Linked DNA regions of Homo sapiens. The protein of the gene in region 1 interacts with the protein of each later gene in a pairwise test. Each region holds a gene or a part of one and is shown in the gene's direction. Other genes may lie near its edges.

The links.
Region 2: the proteins of GRIPAP1 (region 1) and ARL15 interact in a two-hybrid assay, tested with the Homo sapiens proteins (one large-scale study listed by BioGRID and IntAct).
Region 3: the proteins of GRIPAP1 (region 1) and CCDC187 interact in a two-hybrid assay, tested with the Homo sapiens proteins (one large-scale study listed by BioGRID).

What each region holds. Positions count from the first base shown.
Region 1 is NC_000023.11:48,985,218-48,988,866, reverse strand, and holds part of GRIPAP1 (GRIP1-associated protein 1), read left to right. Parts: intron 1-668; coding exon 669-746; intron 747-989; coding exon 990-1,082; intron 1,083-3,464; coding exon 3,465-3,599; intron 3,600-3,649. UniProt on the Homo sapiens protein: Regulates the endosomal recycling back to the neuronal plasma membrane, possibly by connecting early and late recycling endosomal domains and promoting segregation of recycling endosomes from early endosomal membranes.
Region 2 is NC_000005.10:54,111,425-54,115,073, reverse strand, and holds part of ARL15 (ADP-ribosylation factor-like protein 15), read left to right. Parts: intron 1-1,663; coding exon 1,664-1,872; coding exon of another isoform or gene 1,873-1,959; exon of another isoform or gene 1,960-3,639; intron 3,640-3,649.
Region 3 is NC_000009.12:136,252,090-136,255,738, reverse strand, and holds part of CCDC187 (coiled-coil domain-containing protein 187), read left to right. Parts: coding exon of another isoform or gene 1-5; coding exon 6-82; intron 83-604; coding exon 605-2,145; 3' UTR 2,146-3,649.

The sequences.
Region 1 (3,649 bases):
TAGAAACTGGGAACATGGGGTCTGAGACGGGAGTCTGGGTAAAGCTGAGACCCCCAGGAACTGGTGGTTAACTGGGTCTGAAGATTCCAAGAGACTGGGGAGCAGAGTGACAGGTGAAGGGGTCAGTCTGAGAGTTCACCAGGACCTGGAAACTAGGAGGTTGTGAGTTTGAGACCTCTAGGATCTGGGACTATGAGTTTGGGTGGATCTCACCTGGGAAGTAGGGACGTGGGAGATGAGTGTGTCTGAAACCCCTGGTGGTTGGGATTGGGAGGCTGGGTGAAACTGTCATCCTTGGGTGCTGACTACATCTGAGATCCATGGGGCTGACTGTGTCTGAGAATCCTGGAGCTCCCAAGCTAGAATCTGGGTGAGCATGAGACTTCTTATGGATGGGAGCTGAGTGAGTTTGAACCGCGTAGCAGCTAGGGCCAGGAGTCTAGTCGTGCCTGAGATCTTGTACGCTGGGATAGAGGGGTTGACTGTGTCTGAGGCCCCTGAGGGTAGTGACCTGGCGTCTGGGTGAACCTGAGATTGCTGTTGGCTGGATAGTCTGAGACCCACAGGTGCTGAGAACATGCTGCTGGGTGGTCAAACAGAGAGTCTGTACGGTTATATGCACCCCAGGAGAGGCTGAGGTGTAAAATGGGCTCCCCTGGTCTCCACAGAGCTTGGCAGAGCTGAGAGATCAGCGGCAGGGGGAGCGCCTGGAACATGCAGCAGCTTTGCGGGCCCTACAAGATCAGGTATATTGTACTGCGTGGGCTCAGGGAGCTGGGGTTCAGGATGGGGGCAGCCTGAGTGGGTACTACATAGTCAGGCAAGGTCCCAGGGATCCTGCTTCCCCCAGGCCTTCGTGTGTGTGTGTGTGTGTGTGTGTGTGTGTGTGTGTGTGTGTGTGTGTGTGTGTGTCCTTTCTTTCTTGGTCGTGGGTAGGTCCTGTCCCCCTGTTCTGGACCCACTCTCACCTGCTGTGGACGTGGGGCCAGGTATCCATCCAGAGTGCAGATGCACAGGAACAAGTGGAAGGGCTTTTGGCTGAGAACAATGCCTTGAGGACTAGCCTGGCTGCCCTGGAGCAGGTAAAGAACACCTGGGGGCCCTTGCTGATCCCTCTCCAGTTCCCCCATCTCCATCTGCTTCTGGTCCACATCAGGGTAGGGTGGTCTGGACCCCATGCTGTTCTCCTGTCTTTGTTTCTGTTGCTCCTTTCTGTTGGCGTCCAGCCCTCTTCTCTCTGGCCATCCATCCCTACTTTTTTTTTTTTTTAACTTTTAAAAATTTTATTGGGGAGGCTGAGGCAGGAGAATTGCTTGAACCAGGACCCAGGAGGCAGAGGTTTCAGTGAGCCGAGATCGCACCACTGTACTCCAGCCTGGGCGACAGAGCAATACTCTGTCTCAAAAAAAAAAAAAAAAAAAAAAGGGCGTGGTGGCTCATGCCTGTAATCCTAGCACTTTGGGAGGCCAAAGATGTGTGGATGGCCTGAGCTCAGTTCAAGACCAGCCTGGGCAACACGGTGAAACCCCATCTCTACTAAAATACAAAAAATTAGCTGGGTGTGGCGGTGTGTGCCTGTAATCCCAGCTACTCGGGAGGCTGAGACAGGAGAATCTCTTGAACCCAGGAGGCGGAGGTTGCAGTAAGCCGAGATCGTGCCATTGCACTCCAGCCTGGGCAACAGAGCGAGACTCCGTCTAAAAAAAAAAAAAAAAAAAAAGCCGGGCATGGTGGCTCAATTCTGTAATCCTAGCACTTTGGGAGGCCGAGGAGGGCGGATCACCTGAGGTCAGGAGTTCGAGACCAGCCTGACCAACATAGAGAAACCCCGTCTCTACTAAAAATACAAAATTAGCTGGGTGTGGTGGTGGGCACCTGTAATCCAAGCTACTCGGGAGGCTGAGGTGGGAGAATTGCTTGAGCCCAGGAGGTGGAGTGTGCGGTGAGCCGAGATCGTGCCATTGCACTCAAGCCTGGGCAACAAGAGTGAAACTCTGTCTCAAAAAAACAAAAAACAAAACGAAAAAAAACTTATTGGCCGGGCATGATGGCTCACACCTGTAATCCCAGCACTTTGGGAGGCAGAGGTGGGCGGATCACCTGACATCAGGAGTTTGAGACCAGCCTAGCCAACATGGCAAAACCTTGTCTCTACTAAAAATACAAAAATTAGGCCAGGCGCAGTGGCTCACGCCTATAATCCCAGCACTTTGGAAGGCTGAGACGGGCGGATCACCTGGGGTTCGGAGTTCGAGACCAGCCTGGCCAATATGGTGAAACCCCGTCTCTACTAAAAATACAAAAAAAAATAGCTGGGCATGGTGGCGCACACCTGTAATCCCAGCTACTCGGGAGGCTGAGGCAGGAGAATTGCTTGAACCTGGGAGGTGGAGGTTATAGTGAGCCGAGATTGTGCCACTGCACCCCAGCCTGGGTGACAGAGTGAGACTCCATCTCAAAAAAGAGAAAACAAAATTATTTTGTAGAGACAGGGTCTCACTATGTTACCCAGACTGGCTTAAACTTCTGGCCTCAAGCTATCTTCCCACCTCGGCCTTCCAAAGTGCTGGGATTATAGGTGTGAGCCACTGTGCTTGGCCTATCTCTGCTTTTTTTTTTTTTTGTAGACGGAGTTTCGGTCTTGTTGTCCAGGCTGGAGTGCTATGGCACGATCTCGGCTCACTGCAACCTCCGCCTCCCAGGTTCAAGCGATTCTCCTGCCTCAGCCCTCCCAAATAGCTGGGACTACAGCCGTGTGCCACCATGCCCAGCTAATTTTTGTATTTTTAGTAGAGACGGGGTTTCACCATCTTGGCCAGGCTGGTCTCGAACTCCTGACCTCATGATCCACCCGCCTCGGCCTCCCAGAGTGCTGGGATTACAGGCATGAGCCACCGCGCCCGGCTTCTGCTTTTCTTTGTTTCTAGTTTCTCTCTAGTAAAGTGCATGAAATGTACTAATCTTAAGTGTACACTCAGTGAATCCTCTCTTCGTCTCTCTCTTTTTTTTCTCTCTCTCTCCCCGCCACCATAGCCACCACCCAGATCAAAGTATAAAGCACTTTTAGTACCCCAGAAGGTCCCCTTTACCCCTTCAAAGTCAGTACTCCCCCAGAAGTAACCATTATTCTGATCTCTAGCAACATAAGATTCATTTCGCTTGTTCTTTAACTTCATATAAATGGAATCAGCTGCTCTTTGTCTCTGACTTCTTTCTGGCAGCACTATGTAAGTTTATCCACGTGGCAGCACAGATCTGTTCTCTTACTGTTGTGTGGTATTCCATTGTATGAACATACCACATTTACCCATTCTCTTCATTGTTTTTCTGTTTGAAATTTCCTCTCTCTTCCTGGTTCTCTTCCCACCTCCCTCCCTGTTTCCCTGGAACTAGGGGGCTCATACCCTGTCCCTGGCCCCTGGGGTCCCTTTCACTCTACTTCTCATCACCACTACTTTCTCCAGATCCAAACAGCAAAGACCCAAGAACTGAATATGCTCCGGGAACAGACCACTGGGCTGGCAGCTGAGTTGCAGCAGCAGCAGGCTGAGTACGAGGACCTTATGGGACAGAAAGATGACCTCAACTCCCAGCTCCAGGTAACACCTTTGGCTCTGGCCTGTCTCTTCCTAGTTCCCTAGTAATGGCC
Region 2 (3,649 bases), on another chromosome or scaffold:
CAAGCTACCAACAGGATGTCACTGAGCACAGAGTTGGGAAGAGAAGCAAACAGGTGACCCTTGCCAGCCAGGGCACACCAACTGCAGTCCCCACTGTTTCCCTAACACATAACAATATGTCAAACATAGGAGCTAGATGTTCAGTGGATGACTGAAATACAGTTATTAACTGGTTAGGACTTGATCATATGCAATAAATTGGTGAAATTCCTTGAAATCTAATTGTCGTTATATAACCAGTAGCACCCCTTTCCTACACATGCACACATATTGCCCCTCCTATTCTTGAATGAAAGTGATGAAAACAGTCACCATGATGTAATGGGAAGTGCCTATGCCTTCCCTGGGCAGGTTGTCTGCTAACTCATGCAAATCCCAATTTTGTGATTTATTAGATACATGACAAGGGATCACTTACTTTACCTCTGTCTGCCTCAGTTTCCTCAGAGAGTTGGACTAAATCATCTCTAGAGTTTGTTCTAGTCTCAAATTTGTAAAGCTTAATTAGTATATAATTTTACTCCCTCATTCCCTCAATTTTCATTATTCCAGTACTGAACTTTGAGTTAGATGTTGTGCTATATAATGGAAATACAAAGAGGAATACTACATGACATGCCTTGGCTGATGAGACTCTCCATGTGGTGTTGCTTTTTTTTTTTTTTTTCTTGAGATGGAGCCTTGCTGTGTTGCCCAGGCTGGAGTGCAGTGGCGCGATCTTGGCTCACTGCAACCTCCACCTCCCGGGTTCAAGCGATCCTCCTGCCTCAGCCTTAGCTTCCCAAGTAGCTGGGATTACAGGCACCCGCCGCCACGCCCGGCTAATTTTTGTATTTTTAGTAGAGATGGGGTTTCACCATGTTGGCCAGGCTGGTCTTGAACTCCTGACCTCAGGTGATTCACCTGCCTTGGCCTCCAAAAGTACTGAGATTACAGGTGTGAACCACCGCGCCCAGCCTCTCCATATGTTTGTTTGTTTGTTTATTTGTTTGTTTTAATAAACATCTTATCTCATTGAGATCATAAGTGTACACCTGTTGTCTGTTATTTTTCCTCATGGGTTATGAAGCCAAACAGAATCATGTAATTGTATCAAAGGCCATGATTTTAGTTTTTCACAAACTTTAGCACTTTGACACATAAAGCTATTGTGCTAATAACTCCCTAGGTGAAATTAAACAAGGCTGTCCTGATCAGCAAGCAGTTCTGTTAAAAAAGTATCACCAAGCTAATGTTAATGGTTTGGAAAGAAGCGTTGGTGGATGTCTAGGCCATGCAGCTCTCTGAGGCAGGTTCAGTCTCAATTTTTAGAGAGTGTGTAGTTCATTTGAGATGATTAAAGTCTGAAAATATCCTTTTGAGTTTAAGTCTAGGAAGTATTTATCCTGGTTCTCTCACACACATTTTTATATAAAAGTCATTAAGAATGGCTTGGATTTTGTGTCTTCCTTCAAGGCCAAATCTACCTATTGGCTCTACTGCCTTCTTTGTTCCCATCCACTGTGATTTCTGCCTTTTCTAAATTCCTGTTTTAATCCATACCACAGAGTTTAGCACTTAATTTTTAAAAGGTACATTGGTTTCCAGTAGGAATTACTGTTGGGAACATTTTTCAGTTGCTGAAAGCTCTTTTTAAAACGAAAATTTGTTTTGTTTTTGACAGGGGCTGATAACATCCGGAAATACTGGAGCCGCTACTACCAAGGATCTCAAGGGGTAATATTTGTATTAGACAGTGCCTCTTCAGAGGATGATTTAGAAGCTGCTAGAAATGAGCTGCACTCAGCTCTTCAGCATCCACAGTTATGCACTTTACCCTTTTTAATATTGGCCAATCATCAAGACAAGCCAGCAGCTCGCTCAGTACAAGAGGTATGTCTCATTAGCATGACAACTCTTTGTCTTCCTTGCTTGTACTTTTGCTGCCACGTTGGAACCTGGAAAAATGCATGTAATTAGGAATGTGCTGGTTATGCTGCTTTCAACATGAAACCTTAGTTTTCATAGGAAGCAGAAAGCCTATATCAATCTGTTAGCACTTGTTTACATACCTAACCCTACTTGGAGAGCACAGAGTTTTCTAGCTATTTAGCAATGGTTAAAAGATGTTTCTGGTTATATTTTTCATCTATTTTGAGGGGCTAAAGGCCTGGTTATTTAATGTTGTTTTAACCTGTGGACTTAGTTCATTCTCTTCTTCAGCTTTTCTAGGAACATATCGTGAGTATTTCCATGCATTACTCGCCTTCAGGTGTCATGTTCTTGTTCCTCTGAAGTGTTCAATGTTGACTAGGATTAATGGATCCTATTCTGTAATCTGCTAGGCTGAAAATTGATGTCTTGCAAATTCCATGCCATCAAATACATTTTAACATGGAACCAATGTTTATCTTCCTCATTTAATTTTATTTCTTAGCTTGTATCTCTCCTATAAAAGCATGAGACTAATTCTAGGCAAATAGAGTCTCAGCCAATAGAGCTTGTGATTCATGGTACTGCAGTAATGAGATATGTGAATAGTTTTTAAAACTTAAATTATAGTGAATTATAACGTAAGTACAGTGAAATCAAAACTCCTGATGTATTCCTTTATACTTGTAACTTTCAGGATATGATTTCCCCTCTCCTTCAGAAAATTGCATGCTTCCTCAAGTGATTTTGGAATGAGATGATTAATATGAACAATCTTGCCTTTCAGCCTGAAAAATAAATGAGGAGCCAAGGACATAACATGTTCTAACTCCAGACCTCCCTCACACTTAGTGTGTGACCCACGGCAGATAGCCTATTCTTGTGCCTGGCTTCTCACCTCTAAAATGAGAATAATCCAATTTATTATGATAAGTTAATAGGATTAATTTGGATAATTTACTTTGAAGTTTAAACACCTAAGTAGAAGAACCATATAAATAGAGTTTTTATTCAAATTTTAGAAACACAGTTTAAAAAAAAGAAAGGCAAGGACCCATTATTCAACAGACAGAGCTCATGTCTCACTTTAGTTGCCTCATTCAGCATTAAGTACGTAGCACCTTTTAAAGAATAGAGTTTGAAAAATACCTTATAGATAATATTAAGTAATTAAGTAAAAAACAGCAATAAAAATCTATTCAGAAAGTCATTAATGTGAAGATCTTCAGCATTATAATGATGGTGTCTCCTAATGTGCTTTTAAGACCTTAGTTTGTAAATCTTTTAACTTCTCAGCATCAGTTTTTCTGCCTATAGAGTAGATATAATAGTATGTAATGAAGGGTAGTTTATGATTATAAGGTCGTTTGCTGAGAATGCATTGTTATTCAGCTATTCATTCTAAAAAATCTTGTAATATGTATGTGTACACTACTACATGTAGACAGTATAATGTGTGTATGTAATATATACATAATACATATACACATTGATAAAACATAGATATAAGTGCCATTTTAACTTCAGATAACTTTATTCAAGTTATTTGCAATATCTGAAAAAAGATTTTTTCTTTCTGCTTTTAAAGTTATGAACCTGTGTATCTGTTTTCCTTAGACATCATATAATTGAAAGTAATGTATCTTTAAACCTAACATATGACTTATGGTTACCCTCCATAGGAATGAAAGATGATCACATTGAATAAAGGAAGCTTTTAGCAATTAATTGCTTCTGA
Region 3 (3,649 bases), on another chromosome or scaffold:
TGCAGGACGGAGGCCTGTCAGCAGGAGGTCCCCGGCATCTCCTCCACCTGGCTGGAGGCTGCCCAGGCCGCTGCCTCCCCAGGTAATGCCCCAGCCCCCAGCCCCTCCTTCAGCCATCGAGTCCCCACTAAGGGTCCCCCAAGCCATTTCTACATCAGAGCCAGCTTCTCCCCACAATACGCAGCCCCTGCCTTCCCCACTGCCTAGCTGGGGGGCTCTGCCCACGCACCTCCCCATCACAGGGTTGCCAGGGGAGGTGAGTGACGGTCAGGGATCCTCTGTCTGGATCCACCCACATCCCTAATGAAAATAAAACAAGGCAGAGCCAACCAGTCAGTCCTTGAACCACAGCTGTGGTGCTATGAGGCCGGGTGCCCGAGGCTCGGCAAGGCCCCTGGACATGACTCATTGCGTGTGGGTGGGGGTGGGCGTGGTGAACCCCTGGGTTGGAATCACAAGGGTCGAACACGCTGGCACCCTCGACGCTTTTCCTGCCTCTGTTCAGGGTGTTTCTCTGTTCTGACCTCCTGGCTTTGGGGGTCGTGGGATATGCATGGGGTCCAGGGTGCAGAGGGTGACCACTGTTGATTGCCCCCTCTCTTAGCAGCTCCTGTGGTCCCTGAGGAGGCGGCGCCCCCAATCCTGCACCAGGGCAGTCCCCTTCTCCCCACCACCTCCTCCTGCGGTCCAGGCTCTGAGTCTGCTTCTGGAACCTGCTGGGGGCCTTCGGAAGAAGCCACGGTGTCATCCCACACCTCCCCAGCAGGCTCTGTGAGCAGCCTGTCCTGTCCCTCTCTCTGGGAGTTCCAGAAAGCAGCGGCTACCCTGATCCAGCTTTCTGGGAGCTCCAGCTCTCTTCCCAGCTTGGAAGCTGAAGACTCCCCAGACGAAGGTTTCAGCTGGCCTGGAGAGCTCTCTGCCCGACACTCCTCGGGGGAAGCTGGCCTGCCTTTGTCCTGGCGGTCAAACCAGGGTGAGCCTCGGCCAGGCAGTGCTCCTGGGGGTGGAGGATGGGTGACCTGGCAGAGGCCCCAGGGCCGCAGGGCCGGCCCCCTGCGTGGCTCCTCCTTGGACACGGCCATGGCAGAAGTTTCAGCGCCGGAGCAAAGCCCAAAGGCAGGCTGGCTACTGCCTTTCCCAGACATCCCCTCTCCAAGGTCAGGGTCAGAGCTGTCAGAGGCCTCCAGCAAAGTTTGGGAGGAGGACTGCGAGGAGGACCTGCCAGAACCCTGTACCGGGGCCAAGCCAGCCTCGGGGAGCTCCCTGCCTGCAGGTGGCTCACTGGGCCTTGGAAGCGGCGTGGAGCCCCAGGTGGCTCCTCCCTCCCCACGGTCCGGGGAGGGGCGGGAAGCTTCTGGGACCAGCGAGAGCCTGAAAGGGGGTGTCAGAAGCGGCATGGAGCCCCAGGTGGCTCTTCCGTCCCCATGGCCTGGGGAGGGGCTGGAAGCTTCTGGGACCAGCGAGAGCCTGATGGGGGTGTCAGACACAGGAGAAGCCCTCCAGGCACCCCCTGAGGCCGCCGGTGTGGTGTTCCCGCTGCAAATCTCTTCTGCCGGTGACTCGGACTCACTGCTGGTCTTTCCTTCGTGGACCTCTTTGAGTGAAGGGGCAGATTTCGGCAAAGGAGGAGAGACTTCTGGCTACCAGGAGGGAACCCGGGATGCTGACCCGAGCCCATCCACCAAGAGCAAACTCCCGTACCTCATGCCAGAGCCCGAGACCCCGGTGACCCTGCAGGCTCCTCCTGGGGACCCAGGCAGGCTGGCACCTCCAGTAGCTGAGAGCCGGGCGCCTGGGCCTGGTGGGAATGGGGCCCCCACTGTCCTGGAGGAAGCCTGTCCCCTACTTGCCGGTGACGTCTTGACTGAGATCCTGTCTCCCGTGGACGAGTTGCTGTCCTACGGCAGTGCCGACCTCCCGTCCTCCATCCACAGGGAGGCCCCCCTACCCCCACCTCCTCCCACTCCCCAAGCACAGAGTGATGGTGAAGACACCAACCCATGCTCGGATGCCTTCCCTTCCCCGCCCTCGGGGCCCCTTGAGGAGGACACCGCCATCACCACCCAGGATTTGTCCTCCTTGTCTGAGGAGAGTCTGCCGGAGGGACTGTTTCCTGGGCCCCAGGGGTCGGCGGGAACCCAGTAGTTGGGGCTCTGCCCAGGGGTGGCTGGTCCGGGTGGAAGCGTTGACGACCAGTTGGGTAGATGCAGTTCTGCAGCAGGGGATGAGGCCGGAGGCAGCCAGTGGCCTGAACCTGTCAGCTGGCCAGGGCACTCGTCGTGTGAGGGGTCAGGCAGTGCCCCTGGAGGGCTCCCAGGGCCATCAGTGCAGCCCCCAGCTCCATCCAGAGTGGCCTCTGTGGCCAGGGAAGGTCTGTCAGGGCTGTTGGCAGCTGGTGACGTGGAAGTGATGATCGGCGGACTGGGCTCCTGTTTTGGGCACAGGGTTCTGGGCTGATGTGGCCTTTGAGGAGGTCTTGGGCAGTCGGGGAGAGCCCTGGGAAGGAGCGCAGAGCTCTGGGCATGCAGAGAGCCGGGGTGGGTAGCGGGGCAGCTCTTAGTGGGTCTGGATGAGCTCCTGGACACTGCCTCACCTGCGGCAGGGTCCCTGGGCAGCCGAGCCTGCTTGGCCAAGACCCCCACCAGGGGCCAAGACCCCAAAGAAATGCTGGGTAAGAACAGGAAGGCAGCCACACCCCCACAGGCAGCCACACCTCCATGTCCCTGGTTGGCAGCCCCGGCAGCCTCTCTCCCAGGCCAAGTGCCCTTGGCCGCCAGTGGAAAGTCTGGGTCCCTTGAGCATGCTGGTGAGGACGTTGAGGGAGGCCTGAGCTGCCAGGTAGAGGACCCACCCAGGCCCGAGGGCTCACTGGGCAGAAAGCCGCTCCTGGAGACAGACTCAGGCCGCTGTACCCATCTCCCAGGTGTGGAGAGAGACCAGGCAGTGGACTTGGTCTCCACGTGGCTCACCAGGAGGGTCCTGCGTGACTCCTTAGCAGCTCTCTCCACACAGGCCCCCAGGTGCAGCCCCTAGGGAGTGTTTTCTGGAACTACAGAGGTGCACAGGCGTCCACAATGTCATTGTGAGCTGTGTGTGGCATACACATGCACACGTGGGAGTAAGAACCTAGAGGCCTGGACTTTCCCAGGGTGGACCGGCCGGGCGGCCGGCTGTGCGGGACAGTCTCCTGGACCTTTCCCCGGTGGACCGGGTGGGCGGCCGGCTGTGCAGGATGGTCGCCTGGACCTTCCCAGGGTGGACCGGGTGGGCGGCCGGCTGTGCGGGACGGTTGCCTGGACCTTCCCCCGGTGGACAGGGTGGGCGGCCGGCTGTGCGGGACGGTTGCCTGGACCTTCCCCTGGTGGACGGGGTGGGCGGCCGGCTGTGCGGGATGGTCGCCTGGACCTTCCCAGGGTGGACTGGGTGGGCGGCCGGCTCTTCCCAGGGTGGACCAGGTGGGCGGCCGGCTCCGCAGGACGGTCGCCTGGACCTTCCCGGGGTGGACTGGGTGGGCGGCCGGCTCTTCCCAGGGTGGGCCGGGTGGGCGGCCGGCTCTTCCCGGGGTGGACCGGGTGGGCGGCCGGCTCTTCCCCTGGTGGACAGGGTGGGCGCCGGCTCTGCGGGACGGTCGCCTGGACCTTCCCCTGGT